Linked DNA regions of Homo sapiens: all the other regions are reported to be linked to region 1. The links are microRNA targets in miRTarBase. Many come from high-throughput screens and were not tested one by one. Region 1 holds a microRNA gene; each other region holds the end of a gene's coding sequence. Distances are between the middles of the regions.
The links. The annotated mature microRNA hsa-miR-590-3p reads UAAUUUUAUGUAUAAGCUAGU and lies in region 1 at 3,532-3,552, opposite strand. An mRNA with a match to its seed (bases 2 to 7 or 8) in the 3' UTR can be bound and repressed. Matches are read on the target gene's strand: a 7mer-m8 pairs with bases 2 to 8, a 7mer-A1 pairs with bases 2 to 7 and ends in A, and an 8mer does both.

Region 1 (5,076 bases):
GGGCCTGTTCGCCGGTCGCCTGGGCGACTACCTCCCCTGCCCCCTAAGAAGTCATCCCTGAAGCCTGAGGAAGAAACAGGACACTGAATTACTTTTCAAACTATCGTCTCCAAGCTGCTTATAGAATAATGTTCTGGGAATTGTTTGAGTTTCATTTTAAATTCTTTAGTTTGTCCACTATCTGAAGTCTCTCCAAAATAAAGTGTGTTAAAAGTGGGTCCAAATGCCAATGTGTGGAGTAATGACAGCGCTAACAGACTTCCCAAAGAAAAAGGAATCAAGATCTTAGGAGAGCAAACAAACGAGCTGTTTACATGCTCAGCTTGCATGAAAAGTAGAAAAATATTAATACCACGAAACTGTATTTTAATACGGCTTAAGCAAAACAAGAAAGCCTCAAAGCAGGTTGAACTCTATTTTCTAATAGAAATCTATACAGCTATTTTAAAAGATAAACCTGAAATTTAGAAGTATTTACAACTCAGAACACAAAAATCACAAGAAAACGCTATATGAAGACAAAATAAAAACACAAAGTCCCAATTTTCCTGTTTTGGCTGCGTTTTAGGTGTGGGCCATTCTACAAGCAAAGCACCTGTGTGGTAAACAAAGCAGTTATCCGAAATTGGCCATGCCCTACACAGAGGGGCATGAGCAGAGAGCACAGCGCCTCACCCCCACCGGCGCCTCCTGTGGGGGCAAAGCGTTCTTTCCCCATTCATTTGTGTGCCTGCTAAGTGGGCTCTTGGCAGAAGTAAACTGCATCTCATTTAGAAATGCTGAATTCCCACTGGTGTGTAGGAGGAAAGAGTATTTTCTCAATGGTCTTAAGGGGCCTTCAGGCTTGTACTTCAGTGAAAGCTAAACTTTAACTGTATAACCTACTGATGTTAAAATTTGGTAAAAAGACTGGTTCACGCCTGTAATCCCAGCACTTTGGGAGGCTGAGGTGGGAGGTGAGTATAGGAGTTCAGGACCAGACTGGGCAACACAGTGAGACTCACTCTCTACAAAAAACACAAAAATTAGCTGGGCATGGTGGCGCACGCCTGGGGTTCCAGCTACTCATGAGGCTGAGGCAGGATAATCGCTCGAACCTGGAAGGTAGAGGGTGCAGTGAGCCAAGATCGTGCCATTACACTTCAGCCTGGGTGATGAAGTGAGACTCTGTCTCAAGGAAAAAAAAAAAAAACTGGCGAAAAGAAGTTAAACCATAATTAAACAAATGAGCTTGCTGCTGTTGGTTGCGCACTCAGGGGGTGCCACTGCTACTCTCTGCGAGAGTGGTGCCAAGGCTCCAAGCTTTCAGGGAGCTTGTCTTTGAGAAGAACCCCCAGAGCCCGCAGTATGCACTATACAGTCATCCTCATTATCCACAGATCCCATATTTGCAAATCCACCCAGTCGCTAAAATTCATGTGTAATCCCAAGCTAGATACCAGCAGCATTTCTCCAGTCAGTCCTGGACCTGCACAGATGCGACGATCCCAGCTGAGGCAGAAAACGATAATGCTCTGCCTGTTTCAGTTATTAGCTGTCAAGTCTTTTCACGATGAGTGTCGGGTGTTTTGCCCTTTGGGCTTTTTCTGGTGACATCGCTGTCTGAAGTGGCCCCAGGTGCAGTGTGAAGTGCTGTCTGCTGTTCTTAAGTGCAGGCTGGCTGTCAGGTGTCTTACAGACAAAACCGGTGTGGGATGAGCTTTCTAACAGGCTGAAATGATGGCACCACAGACTACTTACTACAGCTGGCCCTGAGTTCAATGTTAACACTATTAAATGAATCAACACTAACATTAAATGAGGCGTCTTTAAAATCAAGGTCACATAGGCTGGGTGTGGTGGCTCACGCCTGTAATCCCAGCACTCTGGGAGGCAGAGGTGGGCAGATCACCTGAGGCTGGGAGTTCGAGACCAGCCTGACCAACACGGAGAGACCCCGTCTCTACTAAAAATATAAAAATTAGCTGGGTGTGGTGGTGTGCGCCTGTAATCCCAGCTACTTGGGAGGCTGAGGCAGGAGAATCGCTTGAACCCTGGAGGCGGAGATTGCAGTGAACCGAAATCATGCCACTGCACTCCAGCCTGGGCAACAGAGTGAGCCTCTGTCTCAAAAAAAAAAAAAAGAAAAAAAAAAAAGTCACATAAAGCAATGTTAGGTATGATCAGCTGACGAAAATGTTGTGATCTGTAGCACACAGGAGCAGCACCGCACGGGCTCATTCAGTGTTCTAGCAACTCCACAGAACCACCTCCAATGATAAGCGCTGACTGCATCACCTGTGGTGGGGGCCGATTTCTATTCTTTAAAGGTGGCAAGGGTTTTGGAAACCAAGGGATCTCACACCCAGTTCAGAGACTGAGTTAAATAATAAATTTTAACAAACCAAGTAATGAAAGCAAGTCTGAACAGATTTAGACCAATAAGAGCACTGCTTTAGGGGAAATACACTGGGAGGCATACAGTCGAGTATAAGGTCCTTTACAAAGTATTTTACCCACATTACACAGTTCAGTGAACAAGCCTAGTTAGTATTAAAACATTTAACTTCACGTTTCCCCCAAACTAAACTGTGAAGTGTACCTTTCCACGTGAGTACAAAGTAAATTTACACCCTTTACTATGAGATTAAATGATTTCGACCACCAATGTCTAGCGTGAAACAAATAGCTCACACCACGCTGGTGAAGCAGATGAACAAGGATCTCTCATCAAATCTGTTGGTGGGGGCCGGGCGCGGTGGCTCATGCCTGTAATCCCAGCACTTTGGGAGGCCGAGGCAGGTGGATCACGAGGTCAGGAGATCGAGACCATCCTGGCTAACATGATGAAACCCCGTCTCTGCTAAAAATACAAAAAATTAGCCGGGCGTGGTGGTGGGTGCCTGTAGTCCCAGCTACTTGGGAGGCTGAGGCAGGAGAATGGCATGAACCCAGGAGGCAGAGCTTGCAGTGAGCCGAGATCGCACCACTGCACTCCAGCCTGGGCAACAGAGCAAGACTCCGTCTCAAAAAAAACAACAACAAAAAATCTGTTGGTGGGTTTCTAGGAAGCAAACTATTCATGAGAATCTTCAGAGTTTTCTTTACAAAGCTTAGTTTAACACTGGCTATTTCTGATGATGAAATGTTTTTGCTTTCTTGGTACTTTTCTGTTGCTCTATTTTGTTTTTTACATGAGCAGGTATCATTAAAAAAAATAGCACCATCCTATTAAAAAGTAAAAAAGATCTACTCTCGCAAATAACGTATAAAGTATCAAATTAGCCATTACTCCATCGAGTGAGCCCACATAGGGTTTGAGATGTCACCAAAACACTGCAGTTCCCACCAGAACTGGTGGCGGCCAGGCCATGGCCGTGTTCACTGTGTCTCTGCTTGAGCGCCAGTGGCCAAGCTAAGCCAAGGGTAGAAAGACGTTAGTATGTGGGCAACTTCTATAACACCTGCGAATACCAAACTGGCAGGGGAAAGGCCGTTCCCTGAGCTGCTGGTTGGCTCTAAGAAGACAGCTGCTGCATGTTTCAATCAGAGACTAGCTTATACATAAAATTACAGATTGACTTCACCATACTGCACTTTTATGAATAAGCTCATTTCTGACTGGCTACAGGACTTTTAAGAACTATATTATTCAACAGGTAGTCGTCACCTGTTCAGCCAAAGCTGAGTTTTTAAAAATCTCAGACTCACAAGACAGCGTGCACCAGTCCCTCCCATACTCACCCACTACTTTACACCGGTTTTGTTTTGATGGGGGGAGGGTGCTGACGTTCTATACAGCACAGCATTGACAGCACATCCCAAGTTTGCGGGAAAGAAAACAAATTTGTTTTTCTCTTCCTACCTTTCTGGGTTACAACTGAAGTTTTTATCATGTGCATATATAAAAAATTATACTTTTGTAATTTAAAAACAGAAAGTAAAGATGATAAAAATGCTTAAAATCACCCTGCAGGGCAGAGGCCTGGCGTGTGGACTGATGCTTTGTGCTATACCACCAGCTGCTCTGCCTGGGTTGGCTAAGAAAGAGAACGGCGAAGTGCATCAGGTCCACCATCAAGGGACTGGACCTCCCCACAATCCTCCAAGAAAAAAAAGGGCCATCAGGACTACCTTTCACCATGTAAGAACCCAAACCTCTATCCTATGTTTTCCAGAAGGAACAGTACTTCTCTTGGTGCCATACACAAAACCACAGAGGAGTTTCCCTGGGCTAGAGTCTGAGAAAGACTGCTGAGCGAGCTCAAGGACCCAGGCCCGTACACATCCAAGGAGCTGCAGGCTAACAAAGGTGACCACACAAGGTGCATGGGGCTCAAGTCCTGCCCCCACAGGCTCTAACAGAGGCTTACTTGCATGCCTGGGCACCCTGCAGGAGAGTTGTATTTGTTAAAGGAACTAAATAAGTAGTCCGGCCAGGCGGGCTACTCGTAAGAAACAGAGAACAGCAGCAAGGCTCCTAGGAAAAATTAAGTGGTGATACTTTAAATACTGATACCAGAATTGAAGTCATCCCGGGAATCCCATCCACCTCTAGATTCTCGAGAGCTACCCATTCCTGAGGATACACAAAAAAGATAAAGTTGAGGTCGTGTCATTACCTTGCTGCGCAAACATGGAAAAATTCATTTGGAAGACATACAACTCAAGTGATGGAAGGTTCAATGAAATCATTTTAAGAGCTTTTGCTTCCAACAGAAAACAAAAAACGCCAGGCTTGCAGAAGCATCAGCCATTCTTTCTAGGATTTTACGCAAACTTTTAAGAGCTCACGAGAACCTATCACACCTATGAGATAATCGAGTTCTACTAGGAACGTTCACGAGTTGGAATTGGTAGGCATACTGCAAATCTTTATGATGTTCAGCTTTAGAAGAACCAATCACCTCTGTCATCTGGTCCACCTTTTCTGAATCCAAAGCCACCTTTATCTTGTTTTCTGCCTTCTGCAATGTCCACACGAAGTGACCGATCGCCCAACAGCTAATGATAAAGGGAAAATAGTGTAAGTATTGGCAAAGAAAACAATCTCAACTGCTATGACAGAGAAAACCCGAGGATACTTACTGCACCATC
Region 2 (5,076 bases), not on the chromosome of region 1:
TGCACTTAAACCAGAAATGAGACATGGCCCTCTGTGGCTAGGATCCTAACTTCAGATTGCTAATTTATCCCATTTTACTTAGGCCCAAAATGACAGGCTGAATACTTTTATTGGAAATGAAACATTCCAGAGTTAGACATGTTTACTCTGGACAGTCAAGGACAGCGATGTGTAGGGAAAGTTTGGTTCATGCAAAAATGAATGAAATTTTAATACACTTAAAGTTACTTCTCACTCTGAAAATAATACCAAAGTAGAGTCAATAAATATTAAATTTCCTTCCAATTCCACAGGACCAATTAACGAAAAACATAATTTTTGTACTACAGAATAAAAATTTTAAAATCTCAAATATTTTTTCCCAAAGGCAGAGGTCATGGCAAATCTTCGGAGAAAGAGAGCATTTTGTCTATTTGAAAATTCAGGCTCAGGCCTTCAAATGAAATGATGGTTCATGCTGTCATTTCAAGTGACTACAAAGAAGAAATGAAAGAAAGATGTAAGGAGTCACTACTTTAAGGATTATTCACAAAAGTCTTAGGAATAATACAGGTGAAGTCTCAGAAAGGCAAGTCCTTATAACAGAATGGGCATGGATCATGTACTAATCAGTAGGTTACAATTCACTACCTTACAGAATTTGGGCTTCATTTAGAAGGCCTGATGGTGTACAACAGACTTTACATTTTCACATTAATGCAAGAGCCTATCAGTGAATTCATGTTCATTTCCTTTATTAACCAGCCTACATTAGATTTAATTTGTGAACTCTGCTATATAAGCAAAGAAGAAAGCAAGCAAGCACATGATCAGAAGAGAAAAAGAGCTAGATAGCCCATAAGGCTCCTAGAGGGAACTTGAGCACTCCTCATGACAGAGACACAGATGACACACTTCTAACTTCTCAAACATGCCAAGTTTGTGCTTGCCTTCTGGGTCTTTGCCTTTATTATTCCTCCCCTCAGCCCACTTGTGGTTCCTTCTAATCCTTCACGTACCAGCTCAAATGTTTTCTCTTACACAGATGACACTTTCTTCTAACACTTTCTTCTAAAGTAGTTTCACCACTGCCTCCCCACATTATCCTGTATACTTTCCAGTCACCATCAGAAGTTTGCTCATGGCTGGGCGTGGTGGCTCATGCCTGTAATCCCAGCACTTTGGGAGGCTGAGGTGGGTGGATCACCTGAGGTCAGGAGTTCGAGACCAGCCTGGCCAACATGGTAAAACCCCATCTCTACTAAAAATACCAAAAATTAACTGGGCGTAGTGGCGGGCGCCTGTAATCTCAGCTACTCAGGAGGCTGAGATGGGAGAATTGCTTGAACCCGGGAGGCGGAGGTTACAGTGAGCCGAGATCAGGCCATTGCCCATTTCCTGGGCAACAAGAGTGAAACTCCGTCTCAAGAAGCTGGTTTGTTTATTGTATACCATCACTAAAATCCAAGCTCAACTATAAAAGGGTCACCTTTTTGCTCACCATTACATGCAGGCATCTAAAAATACTTGCTTAAATAAGTGAATGAAAAAGCAGCAGAAAGGAAGCAATTTTACTTCTGAAAAATTATTCTAAAAAAATAACAGGTCAACTTTACCAAGATATAGATATACATTTATAATAATGAAAAGAAATTGTCTAAAAATCTATCCAATCTATCCAAATGAGTATTTTCTTTTTTTTTTTGAGACAGTCTCATTCTGTCATCCAGGCTGGAGTGCAGTGGTGTGATCTCAGCTCACAGCAACCTCCTCCTTCCGGGTTCAAACAATTCTTCCACCTCAGCCTCCCATGTAGCCAGGATGATAGGTGTGCACCATCATACCTGGGTAATTTTTGTATTTTTAGTAGTGTCAGGGTTTTGCCATGTTGGCCAGGCTGGTGTTGAACTCCTGACCTCAAGTGATCCATCCGCCTTGGCCTCCCAAAGTGCTGAAATAGGCGTGTGCCACTACGCCTGGCCATGAAATTGTTAAATTAGTTATGGTATCTATAAAGGTATTAAAAAGAATATTAAAGACATTTTTTCTACTACTGAGTGAAATAAGCAGATTACAGGCCAGTATGTATGGTATGATCACATTAATGTAGAGAAAACAACAAAAATAGTATGTTGTTGTGTAAGTTTAGAAGAAAATAAAACAAACAAGATATTAAAAATAGTAGTTGTCAATTTACTTTTAACTTTTTCCTCCAAGTTACCTTTGCCACGCCTCCTCCCCCGCCTTTGCTGTATGAGAAAAAATTTGGACAAAAACTTCAGGTGACTATGAGGAGCGATTTTTTTCTCAGCCTAGCAGTGGTAGAGAATGCCTTATTTTCATCCTTATGCCCTTTCACATATGATTCCAAAGTGTACATATCCAAATTCCTACTTTACCTCTCCAGAGATCACTGCCAACAAAGTTATTACCTCTCTAAGATCCTAATATTTCAAAACAAACGGCATTAAATCTTAGTTTTGACTGCTCACTGTGTAAATCAGACTATTTCAGGTCTGAACTATGCCATTTTAAAATTTCCCTTTTTAAAAAATCTTTATGGAACAAGTACAATTTTTCGACAGATAGTGACAACTACTCCCTACTTTAAATATAGGCTGGACAAATCATACACAAAATAATAGCATAATCTCATAGTACTTCAATTTCATTCTACTCTCTATGTTTGAAGAAAGAAAAACATTATAACTGAGTTCACAGCAGCCTTCTTTTATCTTAACACAAGTTACCAGTGTATACATAAGAAGCTGTGAACAGAAGCTCTTTATGATATTCATATACAAAGCTGCTGAGAAACAGCCTCAACAATGCCAATCAAAGAGCAAAACATTGGGTTAGTTTTCAAACTAAATGAGCTGCTTTGCCCTCCATGCCAACTATTAAGCAATAGGCCCTTTTATGTCTTTCCCATTCATTACTGACTAATGCAGCAGTTCTCAACATTCTCACTAGTCCCATGATCACTCAATTTTTTTTCCCTATTCTTTTAAATAACTCTATTTGGTTACAGATAAAATGAGCAAGTTGACAGCATACAAGTTTTCTTTAAGTTCTTAATTTTTAAGAAGTATTGTGTAATTTTATTTTCTAATTTTGGTATTTTTTTCAATAAAATGTTTTTTAAAACATTTAAACAAATCATATAATAGCTGACCTGGTATCGAATGCTGTACTTAGACATTCCTAAACCATTATTTTTTATATTTCAAACTAAGTTTAAACAAAAACTTTATTATTATTGAACGAATATCCAAGGATCTTAAAGAAATCAATCGAAGTGTGATACAGTCTAGTGTTTATTTTATGTTATGGCAGGTACACTTGAATTTCAAAAATTTAAAACATATATAAAAAGTGGTTAGGGACTAACATTTGTATCAACAGTTGATAAATGTCTAAGATTGTTTATTATACAGCAGGGTACAATGGTAGTGCTAATGCCAACAGGGCACCATGGAAGTTAGTCTAAAAATTATCGCTAGGCTTTATACAAGCAACAACATATGCTGCTGCTCTTAGAATTTTGGGAAATGATCTGCTTCTAATACTAAGCAGTTCTTTAACATTTTTAAATGTTATACAGTGTTACAGTATTTAGTTTGGCAAATGTTTCAAAATAAAGTAGAAATGTATTCATAACATCACAGAAATGCACATCCAATGTTGTTTTCAATAAGAACCATAGGTACAGATCAGAACTCTTCCCTATATGAAATAATTTACACACAGATGAATACTATAATATCACTATCTAAAATAATCACTAAATACAGTTCTTTTTCAGAAATAAACAAGCAAAGATTTTTTTCATTATCAAATATCAAAAACATGTTGATAATGTATGTTTTTCAAATAAATGATACTTTAAAATTATAGGAATAATCTCAGTGAATTCAGTGAATGTGCAACCTAAATCAACCAAGTATACTGTAGTACAACCATATTAAGAAACCAATGATCAGAAAATACAACCGTATGAAAGAAATTTATAATCCACAAAACTTTTTCAGGTCTTAAGGTAAAATAGTTCCACAGTCTACAGGTAAAACCAAGGCAACAAAAATGCGTGCTTATCTTGATTAAGTAGGTAATTTTATGCAGAAGATGTAACACTTTGTTTGTAGACAGCATGGTATGCATTTCTCAGCAAGACATAAGGAAAACAAGATTCCAAAAGATCCATTGTAAGGAATGGAGATTCTTGTACAATCTGTAAAATTCAAAAAATCCATCAAAACAAGTTATTTATAACTTGTTTATAAACAAAAATCATAAGTTATTTATAATGGGAACATTTATTGACAACCAGTAAGGCATAACTTCTATATTGTTCTTATTAGCAATAGACACATATTATTTTCCTTTTACTTAATCTAAAATGTAAATGTGCCACAGTGAATGTATATCAAACTGTTTAAAAAGAGCTACTTTTCAATTAAATTTATTTAATCAACAGGAATATATTGAGCACTTTCATTTTCCTCACTGATATACTAGAAATAAAAGACAATACAAAAATATTTTTTTTTTGTACTATCAACTCTACCTGGCAATCAAAGACTAAGCTAGGAAGCAAAACCAAACATAAGACCGACTATAATGAAATGGAAAGCTGTAAATTCTGTAAGAATTCAAAACAGAAGAAAGATTAATGTAGGCCAAAGTAATCAAGAAAGACTATCTGGAAAAAGATTTGAGCTGTGGGATGTGCTAAGTCATTAGGATAAATCCAATTTCTGCAGGTAAGGAAAATAACTCTAAGTGGGGAAAGAGCCACGTGGTAGAAACAAGCAAGAGCTGGTTCACAGATACTGCAGAGAGGGAAGTGACTAGGCACAGAGAATTACAGAAAATTACGAGAAATGGGCAGAATAGAGTTAGAATGTAGAAAACTCAGAAAACTGGAAGAGAGGTGACACCAATACACTAGAAAAATACAAGGCCTGAGTGTTTTCCAACAGGTTGAAAAACTGTTCATAAAAGAATACCCACAGTTAATGCTAACCTTTGATTGTTATCTTCTGATATTACCGAAATGATAAAATATGAGTGATGTCAGTCTTCTCTGCAAATTTT
Region 3 (5,076 bases), 11 Mb from region 1:
GTATTTGGTGATATCTGGAAAGCAGTAAATTCCACTTGGAATTATTGTTCTATTCTACATTATAGGTAGTAGCATGTACTGAAGCTCGTTTTCTATACAATGTGTTCTATACAATTGTAAATGTTGCATTCTTGCTCCACATTTCAGGTGCTAATTTATGATCTTGATACAGTAATTTGTATATGAAATCTCTGTAAAGAAGGCCACTTGATGGTTTCCAGTTTTTCATTACTTTTCACAGTTTTTCATTCCTATCTGCATATTGAGAGAAAAAAAATAACTGCATTCCAAAGGTTCAGTTAGACTTACTAAGATTCAAATGTGAAAAATTAAGGATATAGTTTGGGGGCTATTACTTTTGTTGAATTTTTTTACTCTTTTTAACTATGGCTGACAATATTATGCTTGATGACAGAGACAGAGAGACAATGAATATGTCTTTCATATTCATCTAAGTAAAACTATGTAGCCTGTTTTCATTTGCTCTTAGCTCTCTCTGTGTTTAATTTATTACCTACATTTTTCCAATTCTGCAGTTGAAGCCCGATGAAAGAATCATCAAAACGGAATATGGGCTACTGATTCGAAGTTTGCAGAAGAAGGATTCTGGGATGTATTACTGCAAAGCCCAGGAGCACACTTTCATCCACACCATAGTGAAGCTGACTTTGAATGTCATTGAGAATGAACAGATGGAAAATACCCAGAGGGCAGAGCATGAGGAGGGGAAGGTCAAGGATCTATTGGCTGAGTCACGGTTGAGATACAAAGACTACATCCAAATCCTTAGCAGCCCAAACTTCAGCCTCGACCAGTACTGCGAACAGATGTGGCACAGGGAGAAGCGGAGACAGAGAAACAAGGGGGGCCCAAAGTGGAAGCACATGCAGGAAATGAAGAAGAAACGAAATCGAAGACATCACAGAGACCTGGATGAGCTCCCTAGAGCTGTAGCCACGTAGTTTTCTACTTAATTTAAAGAAAAGAATTCCTTACCTATAAAAACATTGCCTTCTGTTTTGTATATCCCTTATAGTAATTCATAAATGCTTCCCATGGAGTTTTGCTAAGGCACAAGACAATAATCTGAATAAGACAATATGTGATGAATATAAGAAAGGGCAAAAAATTCATTTGAACCAGTTTTCCAAGAACAAATCTTGCACAAGCAAAGTATAAGAATTATCCTAAAAATAGGGGGTTTACAGTTGTAAATGTTTTATGTTTTGAGTTTTGGAATTTATTGTCATGTAAATAGTTGAGCTAAGCAAGCCCCGAATTTGATAGTGTATAAGGTGCTTTATTCCCTCGAATGTCCATTAAGCATGGAATTTACCATGCAGTTGTGCTATGTTCTTATGAACAGATATATCATTCCTATTGAGAACCAGCTACCTTGTGGTAGGGAATAAGAGGTCAGACACAAATTAAGACAACTCCCATTATCAACAGGAACTTTCTCAGTGAGCCATTCACTCCTGGAGAATGGTATAGGAATTTGGAGAGGTGCATTATTTCTTTCTGGCCACTGGGGTTAAATTTAGTGTACTACAACATTGATTTACTGAAGGGCACTAATGTTTCCCCCAGGATTTCTATTGACTAGTCAGGAGTAACAGGTTCACAGAGAGAAGTTGGTGCTTAGTTATGTGTTTTTTAGAGTATATACTAAGCTCTACAGGGACAGAATGCTTAATAAATACTTTAATAAGATATGGGAAAATATTTTAATAAAACAAGGAAAACATAATGATGTATAATGCATCCTGATGGGAAGGCATGCAGATGGGATTTGTTAGAAGACAGAAGGAAAGACAGCCATAAATTCTGGCTTTGGGGAAAACTCATATCCCCATGAAAAGGAAGAACAATCACAAATAAAGTGAGAGTAATGTAATGGAGCTCTTTTCACTAGGGTATAAGTAGCTGCCAATTTGTAATTCATCTGTTAAAAAAAATCTAGATTATAACAAACTGCTAGCAAAATCTGAGGAAACATAAATTCTTCTGAAGAATCATAGGAAGAGTAGACATTTTATTTATAACCAATGATATTTCAGTATATATTTTCTCTCTTTTAAAAAATATTTATCATACTCTGTATATTATTTCTTTTTACTGCCTTTATTCTCTCCTGTATATTGGATTTTGTGATTATATTTGAGTGAATAGGAGAAAACAATATATAACACACAGAGAATTAAGAAAATGACATTTCTGGGGAGTGGGGATATATATTTGTTGAATAACAGAACGAGTGTAAAATTTTAACAACGGAAAGGGTTAAATTAACTCTTTGACATCTTCACTCAACCTTTTCTCATTGCTGAGTTAATCTGTTGTAATTGTAGTATTGTTTTTGTAATTTAACAATAAATAAGCCTGCTACATGTAAAAAGAACCAAACTCACAATATTAACATAAACATCTTTCATATTTTGTTAGTACTTTCAAATGTTTTCAATTTGACTTTCCCTCTGAATATGCATGGTGTGTTTCCTGTCTGTTTAAGCAGAACTCACCTTTCCTTCTTGTAACACAGAACCCTTAGCCTTCTTCTGTTTTGCCTTTTCACGCCCTTTATAGTGTGAAATGAAAAATTAGTCACTTCCTCACATGGAAGGCAGCTTTTCAGAAAATAACAGACATTGCTCGTTTCTCATGCATTCTACATATCTTGAAAGAAAAGTCTGTGAGAAAACCCTGTGATTAGAGGGCAACTTAATGCAAGATCTGTGGCTCTATGTTGAGAGCATTCTCTCTCTGTTATTTTTATTTTATTTGCATTGCTTACCTATCTCAAAGTAGTCAAACTGATATATGAGATTGAGTACTCCCTTTTGATATTATACTGATGAATATTTGTAGGTGTTTCACTATAAGGAACAGCTAAGGAATAATTTTAATAAAAGTGAACCAGAACAAATCACTCATTTAAAAAGTAATTCAGAAGAACAGTGTGGCATGATCAGACTTCTAATTGAATAGCGTAACAACAGTGTTTGTAATTATAGATTTGCTTGGACAAAATATTCCAGGAACTCATAGCGAGCTCAAAGCAATTAAGTGGGAACATTTTTAATTTAAAAAAAATTTCCAAATATTTGTGGGTCCGACAGTAATGATCAAAATATGAATGACTTTGGAAAATTTACATGAAGCTCAAGTGTTAGGATTGACTTATGAAAATAAATTTTATTTCTATCCAAATTTGAATGTCCAAACCATTTTTTAGTTACTTCTTTCTAATCCTAGTTATTCAGACAAAATTTGGAAACTTATTTTATGACCACATCTAATATTCTGGCTGCTTTGGATACAATACTCTTGATTTATGATAATTAGTTAAAATATATTAAAAATATTATTAGTAAAATAAAATTTCACACAATAAAAAACAACATAGAGTACACATATTTATATGTATTTTTAAAGATAAAGAATATCTAAAATGTGTTTTTTTCTTAGCTTTTTAGTTGTCTAGAACATTTAGAGAAAGAGTATGAATATATTAAATCCACAAACACACTATATACTTCCTCACCACTGACTATTTTATCAAATTTGCCTTAAAATAATGAAAAAGAAAAGTATAGTTAATGGTTTCAAATATGCTAAGAAATTGACTCTGCGGAGGGGATCTTAAAATGCCTGTTTACTCATGTTTTCGTATTTTTCTTGTCTCTAATACTTTTGTCTTTGTCTGCCTTGTGTGTTCTTTTCTGAATTTCATTTCAGCAATTTATGCTGCTAAATAGAATCCCGCATGTCTGCATTCATTTACATTCAACTTATTGTAAATTTTGAGATTTTATTTAGAAATGAATTGTCTAATTAATTTATGTAGAGTCCTTTTTTCCAAAGAGCTCAAAACACTACATCCACATTATTGACTTTTGGAAACCAACCAAATTACTTAAGAAATGGAAAAGTAGTCACAGAGAAATTTAGTAATTTGCAAAAGCCACAACAGTAGTGGAAGAATTAAAATTCATAAAGTCTCATCATTCTGTTGGCTAAAATAATGCTCTTTACAATATGCTGGCTACAAAATGGTCTTACTCTTGAATTTTGCTTTTGGTTCATATTTTGGTTCTTCATATTCTAGTATGTTTTGTTCCTGCTGAATTTTACAGACTCAGCTAAACAATAAGTTATTAGTAGTCACTTGTTTTCATTATCATAATTGAATTTCCAAGAACAACTTGATATCATTCAGCTGTCCAAAAAATAATAAGAGCATTCATTAAATACTGATTTTCTTAAACTTAAATGTTGTATTTCATATTTATTTATATAATACAAATGGAAATCAAAACTGAAATAGCCTCCCTTTAGAATGTCACATTTTTCTTAGAAAACATTTTGGAATTGGTTAACCTTATTGGGAATGGATAATTTAGAAACAAACCAAAAAAAAAAAAAGATATTTGAAGTGTTTTTATAGGAGATGTATTTTTATCATAGTAAATGATCACAATTTTAAATAATTCATCTTACAAGTCAGGTAAAATAAAATCGATTCCCAGATTCCATACATTAGGAGTGCAAAGACAGGATCATACACATGACTTATACCTCTCATTTAAATATTTTATAGTATAAAGTATTTATGGAAAGGGTTTGAGATAGATGATTTTTGGGAAAGGGCAAAATGTGTCAGATGCCCTAGTTAATCATGTAATTTAATTCTGGTATTGTGAGTGGTTAGCAATCAATTTTGAATTTATAATTCTGCTATTTTAAAAGAAATGTAGTCTTGTAGTATGAAATAATTAAAAATTGTTAAATGTATATTTTGGTTGTATTATAATAAAATGCAAACATGACTGTTCTATGATTATAAAAACTACTGGTTTGTGTGCAAATTTTGTTTTCAAACCCCAAATACAGTAAATTTTATATATAAAATAGGACTAAAGAAAATATAAGATGCAATATTTTCTGAAATGTTCAGTAGATGTATTTTACACTGTAAGTATGCAGTAATTTCATTTATGAAAGAAAAGAATGTGTCCCACCCAATTTGATACCATTATATTGCTAAGCTTTATTGTGATTTAATTTAGGTTTTAG
Region 4 (5,076 bases), not on the chromosome of region 1:
CTTGTCTCAAACTCCTGCACTCAAGTGATCTTCCTGCCTTAGCCTCCCAAAGTGCTGGGATTACGGACGTGAGCCACTGCGTCCAGCAACATTATCTATTGATAGCTGAGTCAAATATGTATTTGTGGTGTTTTTTTTTTTTAATGTTTGGCTTTTAAGTCTGTATACTACCACCAAAATGGATCTCACTATAATCTGAAGACTTTTAAGTCTCAGGCCCTTATTTCAAGCTATATTTGATGCAAGAAAATTAAATCTAAGACATATACCTCAAACTCTACTTTATAATGACTTGTTTGACTGACTAGTTGAAGATCTTTATGATGAATCCTAGAAGTCTGTTGAACTATCTGTAGAATGGCACCACCAAAGGCTTGGATGGGTAAATTTTCTAGTTTGCCTATATTAAGTTTATGCTCCTGCCCACCCTTTAAGGCAACCCTGATTAATAAACAGAACTGAGAATTAGTTTGTGGTTTAATGCAAAACAGATGTTTTTAAACCACTTGGGGGTTGGGACCTTTTAATATTAAGCACTAATTCCCAAATACGCCAAGTGCTTTAGGGAGGTCCAGACGGACTGGCGTCAAAGGATTTAGGAAATTTGCTGCCTAAATTAAGACCACCACTGTATATCAGACATTCCCCTTGGCAAAAAATATTCCTGTCTCTTCACCTTGTTCCTCTGTTCTCCAGACATCACTGATAATAAGCTTGTTGTGTAACATTTCTTATACCTCTTTTCCTCATGCTGTTAGTTTTTGAAGGTGCGCTATACTCGATAATTAATGTTCTTCTTTTTTTTTTTTCCTTTGGCAGAGGAGATTGAAGTGGATGTTGAAAGCACAGAGTTCTCCCATGGAGAAGTGGACAATATAAGTACCACCAGCATCAGTGACATTGATGACCACAGCAGCCTGCCGAGTATTGGGAGTGACGAGGGTTACTCCAGTGCCAGTGTCAAACTTTCATTCACTTCATAGAACCCAGCATGACATAACAGTGCAGGGCAAAATATTCACTGGGCCAATTCAATACAAACAATCTCTTAAATTGGGTTCATGATGCAGTCTCCTCTTTAAAACAAAACAAAACAAAACAAAACTATACTTGAACAAAAGGGTCAGAGGACCTGTATTTAAGCAAATACTTAGCAAAAAGTGGGGCAGAGCCTCCCAAGGAGAACAAATATTCAGAATATTCATATTGGAAAAATCACAATTTTTAATGGCAGCAGAAAACTTGTGTGAAATTTTCTTGATTTGAGTTGATTGAGAAGAGGACATTGGAGATGCCATCCTCTTTCTCTTTTCTAGTTTGCTCATACTACATTGAGTAGACACATTTAAGGATGGGGTTATGAACCCTTCCTGAGCTTTATGGTCCTAAAAGCAAAATAAAAACTATTCGAATGAAAAGACAAGAAAATCAGGTATTAATCTTGGATAGCTAATAATGAGCTATTAAAACTCAGCCTGGGACAGTTTATCATGAAGCCTGTGGATGATCAATCCTTTATTATTATTTTTTTTTTTTGAAAAAAGCTCATTTCATGCTCTGCAAAAGGAGAGACTCCCATGAAGCCTTTTGAAAGGGATCATCATGCAGCTCAACTTTCTGTTGGATTCCATGCTAAGCAAGCTAACCTTATCCTGCATTGTTAGCACTAGGCACCCAGCTGCCACCTCTCCATCCTGCTGCCCTTAGGCCACATGGGAGCAGTCCATGCATGACAGCCTCTATCCTACAAGGCCTATGAGTATGGATTGGGGGGGCCAAAAGGAAAAAGCTCCATGTGCCTCTTTGTCTGCGTGGGTCAGAAGAGTTGTGCACGCAGATTAGCAGGCCAAGGTCTGAGCCACAGCAGCATTTTTATTTCAGATTTTGATAACTGTTTATATGTGTTGAAAACCAAAATGACATCTTTTTAAAGCTTATCCATAAAAAAAAATAGATGTCTTTTATAGTGGAAAAACACATGGGGAAAAAAATCATCTATTTTGATGCAGCATTTGATAATGATAAAACACCTCACACCTCACTCTTTATAGTGCACAAAATGAATGAGGTCTGGGCTAGGTAGAAAAAGGGTCAATGCTATTTTTGTTTTTAGAATCATTACCTTTTACCAGCTTTTAACCATCTGATATCTATAGTAGACACACTATCATAGTTAACATAGTAAGTTCAGCACTTGTCTCATTTTAATGTAAAGATTTGCTTCCATTTTCCTACAGGCAGTCTCTCTCTTCCTCACAGTCCCACTGTGCAGGTGCTATTGTTACTCTTACGAATATTTTCAGTAATGTTATTTTCTTCTAAGTGAAATTTCTAGCCTGCACTTTGATGTCATGTGTTCCCTTTGTCTTTCAAACTCCAAGGTTCCCTTGTGGCCCTCTCCCTTACCCTGGGAAGGCCTCTTGGAGACCTTACCCCTGGCTGTTTGGACTTTGTATACTTTAAATAATTTAACTACCCTTAATTACTTAAAAAAAAAAAAAAGCTTTATGATTTTCATAACTTATTGCTGATTTTAATGGATTGTTAATTTCAGTCCTGTAGTTTTATTTTATGTTTAGATAGGGCTGGGCAAGGAAAAAGAAAATAAAGACAACCATATTTAGCAGTGCAGTTGAGTTGTGTGTTAATGTTAGACTATCCCTTTGTGAGTGACACTTTAACAGCATTCACTGCTTCTATATATAGTGTACCATCTTGGTCATACATTACGCCTCAACATATACTTGTGCTCTTCCTTTGCCTCCAGAAGAAGTTTTTCCTTGATTGTGCTATGTTTCAGTGGAAGAAATTCTTTGAAGTAGATGTGAGTGAAAAACTGCATGCCTTTAGAAGCCCAGTATCAGAACTTGCTACGTTTCAGGTGCTAGGGACTTAATGAAAAACAGGACAAAACAATTCCTTTTTGTGGCCCAGGTAAATTATTTCTGGTTTCACTTATAATTACTAATGGCTGAGTCAAGATGTTGTCTCTGTGTTTGCTTACTCTTGATCAAGTGTGAGACAGTTTGAAGACTGTGCTACCATACAAAGTGAATGAAGCCAGTGACTAAGCTTCTGTTTGTTTTGTTATTCTCATGGCCTTCGCTTGCATTATTTGGGCCTTCATTCAGATGAACTTGAGGTGCCATTTTGTTGCATATGTACAGGATTATGGGCTGGAAAGCATTTGTTATAAACCTATAGTGCACATTTTAACTGCCCCCTAAATTACCCTTCCCTGGGTTTGTTTTCCTTGGGGTGGTGTAGATTGTATGAGTAAGAAGTATTAATTTTTTAAAAGACAAATCAACTTTGAAGACACAAAAGTTAATTGGAAGAAATAAAAACTGTGAACGAAGAATACCTTTCTTTTTGTACCATCCTTCTTTATGAAGGCAAAAACATGAATGGGTATCCACACCTTAAGAGGTAACTATCTCCTAAATGTCTGTTGATACCAAATCAGTATCAATGCCAAATCAAATGGCAGTTTGAATTATAATTGCCATTCCTGTTCTGCAATTTAAACAGGAGCCTGACTGGTAACTCCATATAACCTAACTGCATGTGGTTTAATGTGCCACATTAATAATAATATTAACTGCCTCAGGTAGGACACAAAGCCATTCTCATGATCTGTTCTCTAAATAACTTTTGGGAGCATCCTTTAGCTACACTATTATTCAAATTGCAAACAAGTCTGGAAGTTCCACTAATCTTATTTAGGGTACCCTATTTATAGAACACCTGAGTGACATTTATATTAAAAGGTACAGGTAGGCCAGGTGCAATGGCTCACACCTGTAATCCCAGCACTTTGGAAGGCAGAGGTGCGCAGATCACTTGAGGTCAGGAGTTTGAAACCACCCTGGCCAACATGATGAAATTCCGTTATCCACTAAAAAAAAAAATACGAAAAATTAGCTGGGCGTGGTGGCATGCACCTGTAGTCCCAGCTACTCAGGAGGCTGAGGCAGGAGAATCTTGAACCTGGGAGGCGGAGGCTGCAGTGAGCTGAGATCGAGCCACTGCACTCCAGCCTGGGCAGCAGAGCGAGACTCCGTCTCAAAAAGGTACAGGTAAAACCTACTGTAGCGCGTTATGACTAGAGGATTCTGAAGTCACTGCAACTCAAGTTTCTGGTTAGAATAGGTATGAGAACTCCTACAGAAATGCCTTTCTAATCTCCCTGACAATGACTGCTTTTAGCATTATGAAGGAATTTTAAGAGGCAGTGAGGATTATTGAGGCAAAGTTGCTGACCAAAATCAGGTTCCCAACAGTTAACCCAGAACAGTAAAGTGTGGGAAAAGCAAGTGTTTTAATTACACTGTAATCCCAGTTCCAACATTGCTGACCCTAGTTAAGTTGCTTGATTTCTTCATGGAGCCCTTTTCTTCCTGAAAAGCTATTATAAGTACTACCTCTATCTTGAAGGGTTGTAAGGATTTAAGCTGATATATATAAACTACCACCCCACTCCCTGACTGCCATCTAGGAAGATGTAGCACTAAGGAAATTAAAAGGGGTGTATTTCTCTAGTTTCTCTGATGAATGCAACCTTTTAATGCATCCTTAATCCTGAATTTTAGTTACTTTGACTCCAGATCTTACAGAAAAAGACTGTTCCTAAATATTGGTTCACTTAAAATTCCATGGTAGGTAATACTTTAACATAAAGTAGTTATTTTTTATTTCCTATAGAATTTCTTTCTGTCACCCAGGCTGTAGTGCAGTGGTGTGACCTCGGCTCACTGCAACCTCCACCTTTTGGGTTCAAGCAATTCTCCTGCCTCAGCCTCCTGAGTGGCTGGGACTATGGCATGTGCCACCACACCCGGCTAATTTTTGTATTTGTTAGTAGAGAGGGCATTTCACCATGTTGGTCAGGCTGGTCTCGAACTCCTGGCCTTATGTGATCCGCCCACCTTGGCCTCCCGAAGTGCTGAGATTACAGGTGTGAGCCACTGCACCCAGCCTCCTATAGAATTTCTTAAATGAAGGCTTTATAAGATTAATGCAGCATCAGTTTTAGTGATTAGTTGGTCTTTCTAGAAAAAAGAAAAAGGACTAATC
Region 5 (5,076 bases), not on the chromosome of region 1:
GGATCAGTTAGAGCTTAACATTTCAGAGCAAGAAATCTCCATTTTCTACATAGAGGTTTATACAATCATGCTACAAATTCACTCTGGGTGGGGTGGGGAAGGAAGGTCACTGACAAGAGGGGTAGTAAAATACACAGGAACCAAAGCAAGTGAGTCAGACTCAACTAAATCGATTCAAAGCTTCAGCTCAACAATTTTCATAACACATGGTATACCACAATCAACCCAAGGTGAGAACATTTCTTTTAAATAGTAGATATCACATGTTCATAATCACTGGGTTGTCCCAAAGGTGGGTGCCTATAAACTTTCCAGCTGTTACATAGACTGTCAACATCTTTCTTCTTGAGTTTAAACTTTCTTTAGCTTATTTGTTTCTCGTTGGATATACCAGTCCAAGCCTCTTTGGGAAGGCACCTGCATGTTTCCATATTTTAAAAATGACATCCAGAAAGTAGCCTGAGAGGACCTGGCCCATCCCATGTGGCCACACATTTGACTTTGACCATTAGCAGCAGTGACACTGTGAGAGGGGGAGAAGGTGCAGGTGGGTGAAGTGGGCAAGGGTCTGCAACACGAGACGCTCTCAGGAGCTGGCCCAGCCAGGGCCTGGCCCAGGGTTCACAGTGACTTTGCTCTGCTCCGCCCTCTTCCCTGGGAAAACCAATCTAAGTATCAAGCATGATCTTCCTTCTTCGTCCTGGAGTACACACAGTAAAGGGAAAAGTCTGCTTTGAGGCTTCTACTTCAATGGTCTCCCCTACCCCAAGCCAGGAATGAAAGGGGCTGCCATATTCTCAAAGTGGGGAAGGCAGAGGGACAGTACTGGGCTGCCCTCCCACGTGTGGTAAACCCTGCAGCTGCTACATGTCTTCACAGCCCAGGAATTCAAGGCCCAGGTGGCAGCAGGAAGAAACAGTGGAAAAGCAAGGGGAAGAGAAAAGAGAAAAAGGAGGGGGAAAGTCTGCATAACTGTCATAACCTCTGCTTCTCCTGCTCTGTAACAAACCCACAACCAGGAAGAGTCATGGTCTGGAACAATCATGGGACCCCAAACGCCTGTAGGTTTTTTACCACCAAACATCACCCATGGCTGCTCTAAGCTGTCATTTTGTTCCCACAGTTACCTAGCATCACGGATGCCCAATTTATGGCCCAGGAAGGCTGACCCAGGCTAAGGGCAGTCTCACTCCACAGCCATGCAATGGACAGTCTGAATGTTTCCCTACCCCAGACCTTCACTGACCTCTACTATTTCCTCCTCTGATATAAAGAAAACACTTTAATTTTCTCCTGCATCCTACATCTCCTCCTAAAATTTTGGCCCTAATTGTCATCAAAACCTTGTAGGATTCTGAATTTTTTGTTTCTTCCTGAATCTTAGCCAGTTCTCTCAGAGCCAATCCTGGATTTATAAGGAATTTTCACCTATTTTTTTTTTTTTTTTATTTTTTGAGACGGAGTCTTGCTCTGTCGCCCAGGCTGGAGTGCAGTGGCACGATCTTGGCTCACTGCAAGCTCCACCTCCCAGGTTCACGCCATTCTCCTGCCTCAGCCTCCCAAGTAGCTAGGACTACAGGTACCCGCCACCACCCCCGGCTAATTTTTTTTTGTATTTTTAGTAGAGATGGGGTTTCACCATGTTAGCCAGGATGGTCTCGATCTTCTGACCTTGGGATCTGGCCACCTCAGCCTCCCAAAATGCTGGGATTACAGGTGTGAGCCACCACACCCATCCTCGCCCAGTTATTAAATACCTTCCCTCTTCAAGTCCTAACCTTGCAGGCTAATTCCTCCCTGGAAGAAGAGGATTCCAATGCTCCTGAGCATAAAAAATTCAGGTCCTTGAATGACGTGGACCCATTCTCCAGCTCTCTGGTGGTAGAGGCCTGAGGCCTAATTTATTCAGCACCTCCATCCTTCAGTCAGAACAGATGAGGACAATACAGGCAGCTGTGCCTCAGGCTGCCAGGAGCAAAAGGGCCATCACCAGCTGGGCCACAGCCTGGCGGAGCCTCCATGTGGGCTTCCTGCTAAAGTCCTAGTGGCTGCTCCTCCCGCAGTCAGGGAGAACAGATCCAGGGCCTCCCACCCAGTCTCGCTGGCTGTCAGTTTGAGAACCTCAACAAATTACAGAGTTGTTTTTGCAACTACAACAGATCGGTGCTTTCTGGAGCATGGATGGCTTACAGACTTTCTAAATCCTGAGACTGTAGAAATCCCCTCCTCAGTCATGGGTCGTCGGGCTGGTGGAGTAAAGGGAGGGTAAGAGAGCTGGGACTCAAAGACCAGCAACTCATCAACTGTGAGTATGTGTGTGCTTGCTTAGGGGGGTGGAGTCCCCCTGGGTCCCCGGTGGCATTCAGGGGAAGACTGTACTGCAGGACCTAAGGAAGGATGACAGGAGCTGGGCGTCCACAGGGCAAGGGAAATCTCAAAAGTTGTTGGTTTCCAGAGTAAATAGCTATCTTATGCAAATATGTTCTAATTATTATTTTTTTTTCAAGTTGTTGTTTCTGAGTTCCAGCTGACAAATTCCACCATACAGACCAGGCGTAGGTGCAGATCAGGAAAGGAATCTTAGAACTCAGTGGATGTAAGCCCTGCCCAGCAGACCAGCCCCTTCTACCACTGACTTCCATTTCAGACCCTTCTCCACAGGAAGGAACTGATGGCCTCCTAAACAAGCAGCCATCAGCTTGGCCTTGCTACCCTTGAGAGAAGGACCCAGTAACCATTATCAAACACAATGAAAAGCAGAGGAGGGTTCTGACCAAGAACTGCTCGCTTTGTATCTCCAAACGATGCAGTGCAAATCCAGTGGCAAATGCAGGAGAGGCAACCACAAGCACATGGCCAGCCAGAGTCCTAAAATCAGAACAACAAAGTAAAAGGGTAGAAGGGGAAATATGCTGGCTAAAAAAAGAGCCTTTTTCTTTGGGACAGGTCCCTGTATGGTAAAGCAAAGAGCTAGACTTTTGGCATATAATGACATCTACTTCTGAAAAGGAAGACTTAACCAAAAAAGCTTAAGGGCCCAGAAGAACAAAGTTACTGTTTTACTTCTCAAGCAGGTGAGAACCAAAGAGGACAAAACCATCATCCTTCAGGCCTGCTACTCTACTAATCTCAGATGAGCAATTCAGAGGGACTTAAAAACCTTCGGGTAGGAGCAGAGCGCAAGGAAACAGCCAACTTTCCCCCAAGAGCACATCCCAAACTGCCTGCCCCAAGGGCTCATCTAACGGTGGAATCACACATATGCCCCTCCATGGAACTCATTCACATAACAGAAAGACACCTGCGGCCTGCAAGTCAAAAGACAACTGCAGGCTACAAGTCCAATACTGCTCAGAACCTAAACTGGGGGAGAGAGGGGTTGACAGGTGTGGGTAGAGCTCTTAACTGGCTGACCCTGGGGGTCTATAATTCCTTTTCCTTCTTTTTTTTTCCTCCCTTTTCATTACCCACAGTATAATGCTTTTTAACTATCTATCCACTTGACAGCCCAGGATTGCCGCAGTCCATCAGTCCATCTCTCATGTAAGGTCTTGTTCAGGGTTGGAAGCACAGACAGGATGCCTCGGGAAGACTCTCTCACCTCAGAACACTCAATCCAAAGAATGCCCAATATACCACCAGGCACAGTAAACTCAAACAACAGAAGCACCGAAGTTCAACTCAGATATCATTCTTGCCTATCATTGAAAAGACACTAAGTGGAATGGCCTGGGGCTTATATTTGGATGGAAAAACAGACTCTGAAAGAATGTACTGGAAATATGCTTGAAGTTCAGCTTCATGAAACGATTCCCCTCAAGTCAGGTACCCTGAGAGCCTGTTTCTCTCAGCTCTACCATGCTGCCAGTGGGAACCAATGGGCTGGACAGTGGTGCTTCAGGGTAAACAGAGGCTTCCTATGTCTGTTTACAAGCCCAGAATGCCCTTGAGAGGAGCCAGGCTAAGAAAGGTGTGATGAGTCAGTGGACTTCAGAGCACCAAGGTGGTTTGGACTCCCGGTCAGGTATGTACTACACAGGCAGTGACTCAAGAAGGCAAACTGCTCATGGGGCCAGGGGCCCAGTACCAGCTCCAGGCACTGAGGGAAGAGAAGAAGGTGCAAAGAGGGAGGACTATAAGACAAAGAAATGAAGCAGGAGAGTAAAATTCTTTTCATAAAAAAATTAGCCTGATAGATAACAAATATACAAAGTTAAAATTTGTTAAACACACTGATACTAGGAGAAAAGACAAATTGGTATTTGTTCCCACGTAAGTGCTAACACGAACATGGACATGGACGAGACATGAACTGCTGCCTTGGGCAGCAAACAGAGACACCTGGGCAGAGGAATAGACACAGCCAGTGCGTGAACTGCTCCTCAACACAACGCCTGACAAACAAATATACACACATTTTTTAATTGAGGAACCAAAGGAGAAGAGGAAAGGAGAGAAAATCTTAAAACTCAGCCCTGGGCTGAGGAGGCGCCACACAGCACTGAGTCTGCCACAGAGGGCGATGGGGTGACTGGCCAGGAACTCCTAGAGCAGCTTCTGGTAACAGTGGGTGCAAAGCAATGAAAGACATACTGGCCACTGGAAACATGTTTCTTCTTACTTTGGGGGTGGGGCAGAGGCAGGAAATACAAAAGCCCCTGCCTCGTGGGCACAGCGCCACCAACACTACACTCTGAGTATCTCCAGGCAGTTGTTGTAGCAGATGGCGATCCAGTCGGGCTGAGTTGATGCCCACTGCACATTGTTGATCTCTCCTTCAGCTGTGTAGGCCAGGATAGGGTCCTCAATGGCTCGGGGCATTTGCTGGATGTCCCAGATGAGAGCCTGGTGGTCATCCGCTAGGGACAAAGAAAGCCAGCAAGCAAGGTCACAAGTGAGGCAATGCGGATGATGATCCCTGCATTTCAGGAGCAAGTCACAGTTTACAAAGCACCCCCGTGATGGCGGTTCTATTTTAAGCCCCCATTTTATCGATGAGGAAATCGAGATTCAGAAATGTTAAGGCACTTGTTCCAAATCACACAGCTATTCAGCCAAGTGAGTGGCAGAGCCAGA
Region 6 (5,076 bases), not on the chromosome of region 1:
TTGTCATTGCCATCATATGTTGGCAAGCTTGGTAACTTTCCCCTGGGGAGAGTAACTCTAGAGACTGTCATACAGGAAAGGACAGTTTAGCTCTAGGTATCTTTTCCTGCCATTCTTCTTGATTTACTGGAAGAATAAGTGGCCTATATCTGATGGCCTGCTTTCTTGTTCTGCCTCAGCTTATCTCCAGCCTCTCTGTGGGCTGTTCCTACCCTATCCTGGAATCCTCTACCAGACTGTATAAAGAGTGGTGTACCCTTCCAGCTGGGAGATGGAGGGTCACTTGGGGGGAGATTCCCATATATGCCTGTGTGGGAGGAGTGAGGACCAGGTGCCTTCTAAGGGCTTTAGCTGAAATTCTTCTGGTGAAACAGGAGTTTGAACTTGGTCGGCTTTTTCCTGTTTTTCAGCTTCCTGATGACTTGTATCTCACTTCGAAATCTGATATTAGGCCGTCCTTCCCTGGAGCAGCTGGCCCAGGAGGTGACTTATGCAAACTTGAGACCCTTTGAGGCAGTTGGAGAACTGAATCCCTCAAACACGGATTCTTCACATTCTAATCCTCCTGAGTCAAATCCTGATCCTGTCCACTCAGAGTTCTGAAGGGGGCCAGATGTTGGGTGCAGATGTAGAAGCAGCCAGTCACAGACCCATTCTATGCAATGGACATTTATTTGAAAAAAATTCTCAAAAGTTTTTTTTTTTTTTTTGGGGGGGCGGGGTTCTAAAGCTGTTTTTAACTCCGAGATTACAACTTAGAGGAACCAAGGAAATAAAGCAAATAAGATTTAACAACCCAAGATTAAGAGGCCAGGAAGAGGTTAGACGCAATGTGAAACTGTCCTCCTAGGATAAGGTTTAAAGTGGCTTTTTGGGGGCTGGGTGCCGTGGCTCACGCCTGTAATCCCAGCATTTTGGGAGGCTGAGGTGGGCAGATCACTTGAGGCCAGGAGTTCGAGACCAGCCTGGCCAACATGGCAAAACCCCTTCTCTACTAAAAATACAAAAATTAGCCAGACGTGGTGGTGGGTGCCTGTAATCCAACTACCCAGGAGGCTGAGGCATGAGAATCGCTTGGGCCCAGGAGGTGGAGGTTGCAGTGAGCCGAGATCGAGCCACTGCACTCCTGGGCAACAGAGCAAGACTTCGTCTCAAAATAAATAAATAAAGTGGCTCTTGGGGAAAAGCAATTTAATGTACCACGATGAATAGCTAACTGTTCCCAAGTGTTTGCTATGTGCAACACACCGCGTGAGCAGTGTTACCTGCATTATTACATTAGGCTGAGAGGTAAAATAATTTGCCCGAAGACATACAGCTAGTGACGAATGGACTGATGGTTTGAACTTAACGTCTATTTGACTTAAGGTCCTGCACCCTGCCACTTGTAATTTTCAGAATCACTGATAATCTGAAATAATGCAGCTTAAAACATGTTTTCTTAATTAAAAGTATAATTGGATGGTGGTCAGGTTGTAAATGCACACAAAGTAATTTATCTTCATTGCAATTTTGGTTCCTTCTTTGTTCCTATTATCTATATACACCCAGTGTTTCACTAGCAGTTATGAGAGCAGTCAGAATAGCAGCATCAAAGTTAAATAAGGAAATCTAGATGATTGCTAGATTTTCTCTAAAAATAAGCTTAGTATTTGGTATTATTCTAGCCTTTGGTGAGCAGAAGGGGAGGTAAAGTAAGAATTAACTAAATTTAGTAAGGGATTAGGGAATGCTTAGACATTTTGTAGGTTGGGGTATACAAGGGTAACTCAGGAAGCTCCTCAGTTCAGTGAAAATTCAAAGGGTTGGCACTGAGCTAGGAAGCGAGAATGCAGGGTTATGAAAAAGGATCCCTGCTTTGGGAGCTCATGGACTTGTAGCAGAGACCGGTAGTAAATTGGCAGTCTCAGTAACTTCTGTAAATGATTGCATCTCTTTGCAGGCTTCTCTTCCCATACTCTCCCCCACTCCTCCTTGGACAGTGTTCCGGGGGTTCTTTCCTAAGCAACTGCTTTTTCAGTATACATACTTCAGATGATTGTGTCTACTCCAGGATTTCCAACGATGCTAGGTTTCTTTCCTGTGCCCTAGACGTATAGGTCTAAGTTCCACCTGGATATCCCACAGGGCTATCAAGCTCAGTTCATCCTAAACAGAACTTACATTCATCCCCAACTCAGACTTCCTTATTCTTTATTATTGAATGGCAGCTCTGTACCTTAGCCAAGCTGTTATCTCTAGGTCATCAGCCTTGACTCTTCCTTTTTCCTTGCATTTCTTAAAATTGCCAAGTCCCATCAATTTTACCTCCTGGATACCTCTTGAATCTATTTTTTTTTAAAGACAGGGTTTCACTCTATCACCCAGGCTGGAGTTCAGTGGCACAATCTTGGCTTACTGCAGCCACCACCTCCTGGGTTTAAACGATTCTTCCACTTCAGCCTCCCATGTAGCTGGGACTACAGGTGCCCACCACCACGCCCAACTAATTTTTGTATTTTTAGTAGAGACATGGTTTCCCACATTGGCCAGGCTGGTCTCAAACTCATGACCTTAAGTATCCACCTGCCTTGGCCTCCCAAAGGGCTGGGATTACAGGTGTGAGCCACCGTGCCCAGCCAAATCTGTTTTCATTACTACCTATATCTGTATTTTCAACCTTTGTATTAGCATCTAGTTAGGGATAGACCAGGACAGGGCCGACATGTTAGTTGTCAAGCAGATTGCCACCCTCCCCCACCACTGAGGAGGCCAAATGGAGTTTGGTGGAAAATCTCTAATTCATTCAAGGTATTATATGGGCAAGCAATGGCTGTGGCACAGGGTCCCCTGATTACTTTGTAAGAATGGGTGGGAGGGATGCTGATTTTCAATCCTTTTGCAGATCTTCTCTCATAGTAACACAATAGAAGATACTTTGCCACTATGTTGTTTGCCAAACTCACTGTACCTACTTGACTGGTAACAAAAGTCCCAAGAGTTACTTGGGAGAAGACACTTGAAAAAGTATTTTTCTAAATATGGGCAAGGATGCTGCCCTTCCCCAAACTGTTAGTATACCACCTCTCTGACCAATTTTCCCAAGGAAGATATTGGGGTAGGGTGAGGTGTAAAGAAAAAGTGGTCATGTAAATACTGGTAATAAAAGCTGTTCAGTGGGGTAGAGTTGGGTTGCAACTGTAGCCATTCTAAAAATGGGCTATCAATGTCCTTTTAGCCAAAAGACTTTAGTATACATCCTCCTCATTCTACCCTCAGGATTTGGATCTTTGCCCCTGATGGGTATCCATCCCCTTTGAAACTTTAGAAAGGCAGGTTATATACAGAATGTTCAACCTAAAGACATTTCCTTAAGTCATACTTTCATGCTTTCTAAACTATAATCACCCTTATCATCCCCTGCTGTTATGCTTTCCCTCTGCTCCCTGTGGCCTAATGTTCCTCCACCACCTTATTAACCTTCAGGATACTTTTCCCCTAGGCTGGGCAGGACAACACTATCCCCTTGGTCCACAAGCTCCCTCAAGGTTGGGGAATCTTTGTTTACTTAGCAAATACTGAACATAACCTTAAAGCGGTTACTTTTGAAAACTTCTCATGCTATTCTACCAACTTGGAGGCACCTATCCATGCTCATTCCCCTAATGTAGCCAATATGGTTATCTGCAATGTATTGGCATCTAAAAACTCCCTTATGAAACTGCCAGACTTGTTCTGGAACATTTCAATTACATGCAAAATTCAGGTTCTCAAGTTGGAACAAGTCTAATTGACACACCTGCATAGGTTTTAACCTTGCCCTCCCCCTACTTCCCAACAGATTTCCAAGTTTTTTGAGAAGGAACCTTGCTCTGGCCCAGGCTGGAGTGCAATGGCGCCATCTCGGCTCACTGCAACCTCTGCCTCCTGGGTTCAAGTGATTCTCCAGCCTCCTGAGTAGCTGGGATTACAAGCACCTGCCACCACACCCAGCTTTTTTGTATTTTTGGTAGAGACGGGGTTTCAGTTTGCCAGGCTGGTATCAAACCGTGACCTCAGGTGATCCACCCGCATTAGCCTCCCAAAGTGCTGGGATTACAGGTGTAAGCTACCATACCCAGATTTCCACGGCTTTTTTTTTAAGTCTCACTCTGTTACCCTGGCCGGAGTGTGGTGGCACGATTTCAGCTCACTGCAAGCTCCACCTCCCGGGTTCACGCCATTCTCCTGCCTCGGCCTCCTGAGTAGCTGGGACTACAGGTGCCTGGCTAACTTTTTTATATTTTTAGTAGAGACAGGGTTTCACTGTGTTAGCCAGGATGGTCTCGTGATCTGCATGCCTTGGCCTCCCAAAGTGCTAGGATTATAGGCTCACGCCTATATTACTATATAGTGGCCTATATTACAGGCCACTCCGCCTGGCCTCCAAATTTCCAAGTTTTTAAGTCTCCATGCAAACAGGCATAAGCAAGCACTCCTTGGCTCTACATTTGCAGGACAAGCTGGACCACCATTCAGATGTTGGTAGAAATGTAATCCAAGTGGCTATTCTCTATGCATGTAGCTCCTAGGTTCAAGAGCAGTGTGGTCTGCGGATTTTCTACACAACCTGCCATAAATGAAATTTAAGCCTTTGGAAATTTATAGCATTTTCAGCTAATTTGCATTATTTATCTCTGCAAGATATTGACTAGAAATCACGTTTCAGAACTTCTCAGATGAAAACATCATACAACCCTTAAAACTAAGCTCATAATTTAAAAATGTATGCAGATTAATAGGCTTAAATTGCCAGGACTTTAGATAGACATTACCACTTCCAGGTTAATACTTTTAGCGGTTTTTATGCCTTCAATGGTTTGAAGCCCTCAACCTTAGTTGAAAACTTAAAAATGGCATTGAATGGCTGCTGCAATAAGGACACATGAATTTTGGCTTAAGTGGACTAGGAGGACTAAATCTTGCTTAGGCTTTTAAAAAATGCCCACCCACTGGGTCTAGGGATTGAGGTTATTTTCCTGAATTATGGCTAATTATGGATTACAATTCAAGGTTAAAGATACACATATAGTATTCTCAGGTTATTCATATGATAGC

Region 2: miRTarBase lists NCKAP1 as a target of hsa-miR-590-3p. Seed matches in the 3' UTR shown: 7mer-A1 at 3,089-3,095, 8mer at 3,076-3,083, 7mer-A1 at 3,055-3,061, 7mer-A1 at 1,829-1,835, 7mer-m8 at 1,547-1,553, 7mer-m8 at 336-342 and 2 more.
Region 3: miRTarBase lists SEMA3D as a target of hsa-miR-590-3p. Seed matches in the 3' UTR shown: 7mer-m8 at 2,261-2,267, 7mer-A1 at 2,597-2,603, 7mer-m8 at 3,377-3,383 and 7mer-m8 at 3,986-3,992.
Region 4: miRTarBase lists MXI1 as a target of hsa-miR-590-3p. The part of its 3' UTR that is shown has no 7-base or 8-base seed match.
Region 5: the mRNA of DCAF7 is a reported target of hsa-miR-590-3p. Seed matches in the 3' UTR shown: 7mer-A1 at 1,601-1,607 and 7mer-A1 at 1,284-1,290.
Region 6: the mRNA of GGCX is a reported target of hsa-miR-590-3p. Seed matches in the 3' UTR shown: 7mer-A1 at 1,006-1,012 and 7mer-m8 at 2,280-2,286.

The regions. Positions count from the first base shown.
Region 1 is chr7:74,189,729-74,194,804 of GRCh38, reverse strand. MIR590 (microRNA 590) reads right to left here and starts at 3,607; the gene lies at 3,511-3,607. EIF4H (eukaryotic translation initiation factor 4H) reads right to left here. Exons shown (of 7, transcript NM_022170.2): 3 at 5,068-5,076; 4 at 4,887-4,983; 5 at 4,499-4,558; 6 at 1-64.
Region 2 is chr2:182,921,609-182,926,684 of GRCh38, forward strand. NCKAP1 (NCK associated protein 1) reads right to left here. Exons shown (of 31, transcript NM_013436.5): 31 at 1-4,210. The coding sequence ends at 4,094. Among named protein-coding and RNA genes, the nearest start is that of FRZB, 58 kb to the left of the region's middle.
Region 3 is chr7:84,995,326-85,000,401 of GRCh38, reverse strand. It overlaps SEMA3D (semaphorin 3D), which reads left to right. Exons shown (of 19, transcript NM_001384900.1): 19 at 537-4,849. The coding sequence ends at 962. Among named protein-coding and RNA genes, the nearest start is that of SEMA3D, 190 kb to the left of the region's middle. RefSeq lists an enhancer at 1-955.
Region 4 is chr10:110,284,005-110,289,080 of GRCh38, forward strand. It overlaps MXI1 (MAX interactor 1, dimerization protein), which reads left to right. Exons shown (of 6, transcript NM_130439.3): 6 at 820-3,361. The coding sequence ends at 983. Among named protein-coding and RNA genes, the nearest start is that of SMNDC1, 18 kb to the right of the region's middle. RefSeq lists an enhancer at 1,381-1,882.
Region 5 is chr17:63,588,783-63,593,858 of GRCh38, reverse strand. It overlaps DCAF7 (DDB1 and CUL4 associated factor 7), which reads right to left. Exons shown (of 7, transcript NM_005828.5): 7 at 1-4,859. The coding sequence ends at 4,687. Among named protein-coding and RNA genes, the nearest start is that of TACO1, 9.6 kb to the left of the region's middle.
Region 6 is chr2:85,545,461-85,550,536 of GRCh38, reverse strand. It overlaps GGCX (gamma-glutamyl carboxylase), which reads left to right. Exons shown (of 15, transcript NM_000821.7): 15 at 411-5,076. The coding sequence ends at 603. Among named protein-coding and RNA genes, the nearest start is that of MAT2A, 8.8 kb to the right of the region's middle.